Linked DNA regions of Homo sapiens: region 2 is linked to region 1. The links come from fine-mapping of genetic effects on gene expression. A gene starts in region 1. The other region holds a variant in brackets. All regions are shown on one strand. Distances are from middle to middle. Region 1 holds the start of TRIP10 (thyroid hormone receptor interactor 10). Region 2 has its middle 13 kb from the start of ADGRE1.

Region 1 (2,901 bases):
CCCCTCCCCTTCCCGGGAAGGGCCGGAGAACAGCGCCCAGGCCCCAGCCACCCCGGCCGGGAGATGGAGGTCTCCGACATAGGACCGCCAAGAGGGGCGTGGAAGGGGACAGGGCCACTCCCCCAGCTCGGGCTCCCCTAATCCCCCCGGATTCCGGAAAATCCGGCCGGCCCGGCGTGAGTCAAGGCCAGAGGGGCAGGGTTCCTGGCAGACTGGGGGCCCCTGAGTGGCCAGGGGGCAGGCACCAGGTTCCCTGAATCTCCCTGCTTCCAGGGATCCCCCGATGGGTGACTCAATTTACCCCACTGACCCCACTACACATCCAAAAGAAATCGCAGAATTGGAGGAGGGGGTGGCAGTCTGGTTACCCCCGCTGCACTAAGAACTCAGGGATTCCACCGCCCCCAGCAAGGGGAGGGGTCAGAGGTCCGGCTAGGATAGGGGGAAATTTCTGGGGCTTCCAGGGCTGAGGTTATAGGCGACCAGGGGGCGGTCCCGCCCTGGGCCTGGGGTGAGCAGGGGGAAGCCAGGGAGGGGGATCAGGCCGAGCTTAGCATCCCCCTTCCCCTCCATGAGCGTCCCCAGCCCCTAGGTGTTGATTAAAGGCGAGGGAAAGGGCGGTCAGGACTTCTAGGTCCCACGTGGGTGGGGATGAGGGTGACCAGAGGGTCCCCTCCCCCCTCCTAGCCGGACAGGCGGACGACGGGCAGGGACCCAGGGGCCGTAAGATAAGCCGCCTGCCCGGCCAGGGCGCCCAAAATAGGTGACCTCTCTCAGCCGCCCCGGCCTGGCCCCAGGATTCCTTCTGCCCGCCTCATTCGCAACCCTGTGCCTCAGTTTCCCCACTCCGGTCCGGCAAAGTCGCCCTTCGCCCCTGAGCGTGCTGAGACTCCCAGATAAACTTCGAGAGAGAGCGGAGGGTGGAGGGCGGGGACCCAGGGGTCGGTGGAAGGGAAAGGCGCGGAGCCCCCTCTAAGATACATTGGGGACAAAAGGGGGGTGCCTGGACCCCAGCAAAGGGGAACTTAGAGGCGGGCCGATTGGACTTACCCACAGCTCAGTGCCCCAATCCATGCTGCTCCCGCCGCCGCCGCCGCAGCCACCACCGCACCCGGTCCCCGCCGCCCGCCGCCCGCCGCCCTCCCCGGGGAGACTCAGCCGAGGGCGGTGCGCCTGGCCCCGCCCCGCCCCGCCCGGCCCCGCCCACCCCAGACTCTTCCCCGCCCCCCTGCACGCTCTGCCACGCCCCCACCCGCGCGGAGCCCAAGCACTGCGATTCGGGGGCGGGGCCCAACGGACGCTCCGCCCCCTTTTAAAGCAACGTTGCCACTCGACGCCGCTGGACCGACCCCTTAAAGAACCCCCACCCATTTTTTCCAAATCCCCGGGGTCCCTCTCGTCCTCTCATCTTCCTTCCCCGCTCCAAACGGTTCTTCCCATCTCCTTTTCCCCTTTCCCCGCAATTATTCCTTAAAGGGCCAAGACACTAAAACCCCAAACTCAAGAAGTCCTTCCTCAACCCCATTGCAGGGGCAACCTGAGGTCACCCCGTTCTTGCGAGCCGGCCCGGCTCCAGGCGTCTAGGTTCGTCCCACTAATGGTCTGGTCCCTCCGGCCACAGGGCGGATGAGAGGGTTTCGATCCAACCCAGGACGCGCCTTCGCCAAGGCCAGGTCCATTAACTCCCGCACCGCATCCTGCCTTCCCTCCCCCAGAGTCTCCGCTGGGAAACTGAAGACAGGCCGTCCTTGGGGCGCCAGGCCCAGGCCTTTCCCCAGCTGCCTTCCAGTTCGCGCCTGCATCTGCCCATTTTCCAGTTTAACCTGGTTTCATTCTCAGTACTGCCCCTGAGATTCCGACTCCGCCCCTCCCCCAGACATCTGGGCCATCTGGGCCCTGGAGAAGGGAAGTCTGTCACCTCTCCCATAAAAGTCTGTTCACACCTTGTAAATCCCTTTGAGGTGCTGGAATGAAAGAGGAGAGGAGGCACTGGGGATTCCCACTCCCATTCTCTCCGGGCTTTGGCGCTTTCTCTGCAGCCTCAGACAAGGCTGGGCGTCTTGCAGGGGGGCCCTTGGGTATACGTTCCCCTTACACAGAGCACCCAGGCTCCCAGAACAGAGAGATACAGCTGAGCCCAGGAGGAGAGCCTTGGGAGCCCACACTGGGACTGATGTCTCTGCTGAGACCTGGCCCCACCTGCTGGTGGCTTCTGAGCTAGAAAATGTCTGATTGCAGTTGGGCAATTGAACCCAGTGAGTTCTGTGGCTAGTCTCAAATGGGGGCTCAGCCTAGCAAAGTTCTGAGTTCACCTCTGCTCAGAGACTCAAACTGGAATTGGGGTTCAGTCCAGGTCAGCACCACCGTGGGGATAGGGGATAGAGGCCAGAGGCTTAACCAGAAGGATTAGCAACCCGGTAAGGGGTCAGGTCCAATCTGGAGTCAGGGCTAGTCCAGATCGGTGGCCTAAACCAGAGATTAAGCCTCAGTGTGTGGTGTGGGGGACGAGGGGGTGTCAGAGTTTCAGGCTGAAGTTAGGACTCAACTTGCAGAGAGGGAGTTCACCTGGGGTCAGAGTTCAGCCCGGAGTCCGGTCTAGCCTGGAATCTGGGGGTGGGGCTCCAATTGCCTCACTCTGGAATAAAAGGCTTAGCCTAAGGCTGGGGTCTCAGCCTGGGGTCATAGGTCATCCTAGGGTCAAACTTTAACCTGAGGCCAGCTTTAGGCCTCTCTGTGGACCAGGAAGATTAGGAAAACAGGTCAGGCCTGAACAGATGCGTGTGTTTACCAAAAGCCTCAGCTCTGGCTGGGAGCCACATCCCTGGCTCAAGAAGAGGAAGTCCGTCCTTGGGGATACTGGGAAAGGTAGTTTATTTAATGCTTTGTGGCCCTTGTCTGCTC
Region 2 (2,901 bases), 140 kb before region 1:
ACCTTTCCCAGGCTGGTGCACCCATCCTGGGGCTGCTGTGAGTGAGTGCTGCCTACAATAGCTCATAGCTCACAGCTTCCCCCTTCTCCTCAGCTGAGCAACTGTGCAAACCCTCAGACCCAGCCCACAGCCATAACGGATGGTCACAGAGGTGCAGAAGGCCAGCCCCATGCCCCCAGGGTGAGACCAACCTGGTGGCACCAGTCACACTCCAGGGCTCCCCATGGGATCCGGCTAAGGCTGGACTCCAGCTAAGACCACTTCCTTGCTTAGCTCATTCCCTTGCTCTGTCCTGATCTTCTCCCTCAAAAACACCTGTGCACAAGAAACCTCACAGCAAGTTCTACTTCAAACTCTCTCTCTTTTTCTTTTCTTTTTTTTGAGACAGGGACTTGCTCTGTTGCCCAGGCTGGAGTGCAACGGCTCAGTCACAGCTCACTGCAGCCTCAACTGCCTGAATTCAAGCAATCCTCCCACCTCAGCCTCCTAAATAGCTGAGACCACAAGCATACCCTACCATACCCTGCTAATTTTTTTTTTTCTCTTTTAGAGATGAGATCTTGCTTTATTGCCCAGGCTGGTCTCAAACTCCTGGGCTCAAACGATCCTCCTGCCTCAGCCTCCCAAAGTGCTGGGATTACAGGCATGTGCCACCAAACCCAGTTCTCTCTTGACACCAAGTCTGAAATGCACATTCACCCCAATCCTATACAACCTTTCTGTGTAAATATCACCTCCTCCAGGAAGCCTTCCTTGACTTCCACTTGAGAGTGAGGCGCCTCCTCCATCCTCCCCCCCCATCACCATAGTCAGTATTATCTATGCTTGCTTGAATGTCTGTTTCCCTCAAAAAACTGAGCATTTTCTCAGGGCAGGGAAAGAATTTCATTGGCTGTTGTATCCTAGAAAATAAAGAAACAAATGAGGAAAAAGAAGGGAAGAGAAATAGATGAATCTACTGAACTTTGCATCCCTACCCCGCTTCCCCAGAAGGAAGACCACAATTCTTGAGGGGGTGAGAAATGAACAGCAGCTGCCCTTTTGCAGGAGAAAAGAATCAGGGTTTCTAAGAGGGAGGTGGATGCAAAGACTTCATTGTCCTCCAAAGACTTCATGGTTTATCTATGGCTCCTAAGGCTCTTTCTTTAAAGGTAGGGGTGGTTTATCAGGCGTCCCGGAGACCCCCCTCCCCAAGCTCAATGATTCTCTAAGAAGACTCAGCATATAGTCTTGCTAATGGTTATGATTTGTTACAGTGAAAGGATACAGAGCAAAAAGTCAGAAGAGGGAGCCAGGTGTGATGGCTCATGCCTGTAATCCCAGCACTTTGGGAGGCCGAGGTGGGTAGATCACTTGAGGTCAGGAGTTTGAGACTAGCCTGACCAACATGGTGAAACCCCGTCTCTACTAAAAATACAAAAATTACTACAAGTCTGTAGTCCCAGCTACTTGGGAGGCTGAGGTAGGAGGATCGCTTGAGCCCAGGAATTTGAGGCTGCAGTGAGCCATGATTGCACCCCTGCACTCCAGCCTGAGTGACAGAGGAAGACCCCATCTCTAAAAAAAGAAAAAAATTGAGAAG[G/C]CGTTCTGACAGTCCCACTCTACCCAGATGAAAAGAAATCATTTTCTCAAAAAAATACCCACACTTGTAGGTTTATCACAGCACTATTCACAAGAGCAAAGATATGAAATCAGTCCAAGTGTCTTATCTACAGACAACTGGATAAAGAAAATGTGGTGTATGTGTACTGGGTCTGTCCCGCAGACCCTGGCCGATGGGATGAAATGAGTAGTCAGACACAGGTATGCAGTGTAAGAGCAGCCAGGTGACTGCCTGGCTCTAGCGGCCAGAGAGCAGCCCCGAGAAGCTGGAGCTGCTTGCATTTGTTCAGTGTGGGCACAATGCCAAAAACATGGAGTACACACAACCTGTAGGTAATTAACATTTATTGCTCCCCTTTCAGGGAACATCACATAGGCAGATGATCAAAAGTCAGTTCCTGGTCAACGTAAGTAAACAGGCCTGCTTAAGATAAATTCGCCCACACTCCCTTGTACCTACTCCTTGCCCTCTGCCTCAGGGTTATAGAACAGCTGCCTTCAGCTATTCCTCCCCCGGGGCTCTGCAGAACCTTCCAAACTTTCAGAAGGTTTGAGTCCTTTCCTTATAGTTTTTCCAACCACTCTGACTGAACCCCCCACATATATGAACTGTGGAATACTACTCAGCCATAAAAAAGAATGAGATCATGTCTTTGGTAACACCTGGATGGAACTGAAGGCCGTTATCTTAAATAAAACAACTCAGAAACAGAAAGTCAAATCCACATAGTCTCACTTATAAATAGGAGCTAAATAATGCGTGCACATGGACGTAGAGTGTAGAATAATAGACACTGGGGACTTGGAAGGGTGGAAGGGGAGTGAGGGATGAGAAATTACTTAGTGGGTTCAATGTACATGGCTCGGGTGATGGCTACACTAAAAGCCCAGACTTCACCACTAAGCAGTAATCCATGTACCAAAACTGGACTTGTACCTCATACATTCATGCAAATTTTTGAAAAAAGACAGAAAAGAAGCCAGACACAAAGAGGGAATAAACTAAAAGGATCTTGTATTATCCAAGATTCTCCAGAGAAACAAAACTAAGAGGAGAAACAGAGAGACAGAGAGAGGGAGACAGAGAGTCAGAAAGAGAGAGAGAGTGATTTTAAGGAACTGGCTCACGGGATTGTAGGGGTTACAAGTCCGAAATCCCTAAGGCAATCTGACAGGCTGCAGATTCAGGTAAGAGGTGATACTGCAGTCTTGGGCCCAAAGGCTTAAAGCACAGGCAAAATGTCTTTCTTCTTTTAAAATTTATTTTATTTTATTTTATTTATTTTTTGAGACAGAGTC

The links. PIP is the estimated chance that this variant, and not a neighbour inherited with it, causes the effect. A credible set is the group of variants that fine-mapping cannot tell apart.
Region 2: its variant is the best candidate, but not a certain one, in a credible set for the expression of TRIP10 in monocytes (TOPMed, PIP 0.73).

Annotation. Positions count from the first base shown.
Region 1 is chr19:6,737,935-6,740,835 of GRCh38, reverse strand. It overlaps TRIP10 (thyroid hormone receptor interactor 10), which reads right to left and starts at 1,156. Exons shown (of 15, transcript NM_001288962.2): 1 at 1,051-1,156. The coding sequence starts at 1,074. RefSeq lists silencers at 902-991, 1,032-1,311 and enhancers at 295-1,062, 1,512-1,641, 1,662-1,751, 1,831-2,599, 2,732-2,791.
Region 2 is chr19:6,873,240-6,876,140 of GRCh38, reverse strand. No RefSeq gene overlaps it. Among named protein-coding and RNA genes, the nearest start is that of ADGRE1, 13 kb to the left of the region's middle. The variant G/C (reference allele first, on the strand shown) is at 1,583.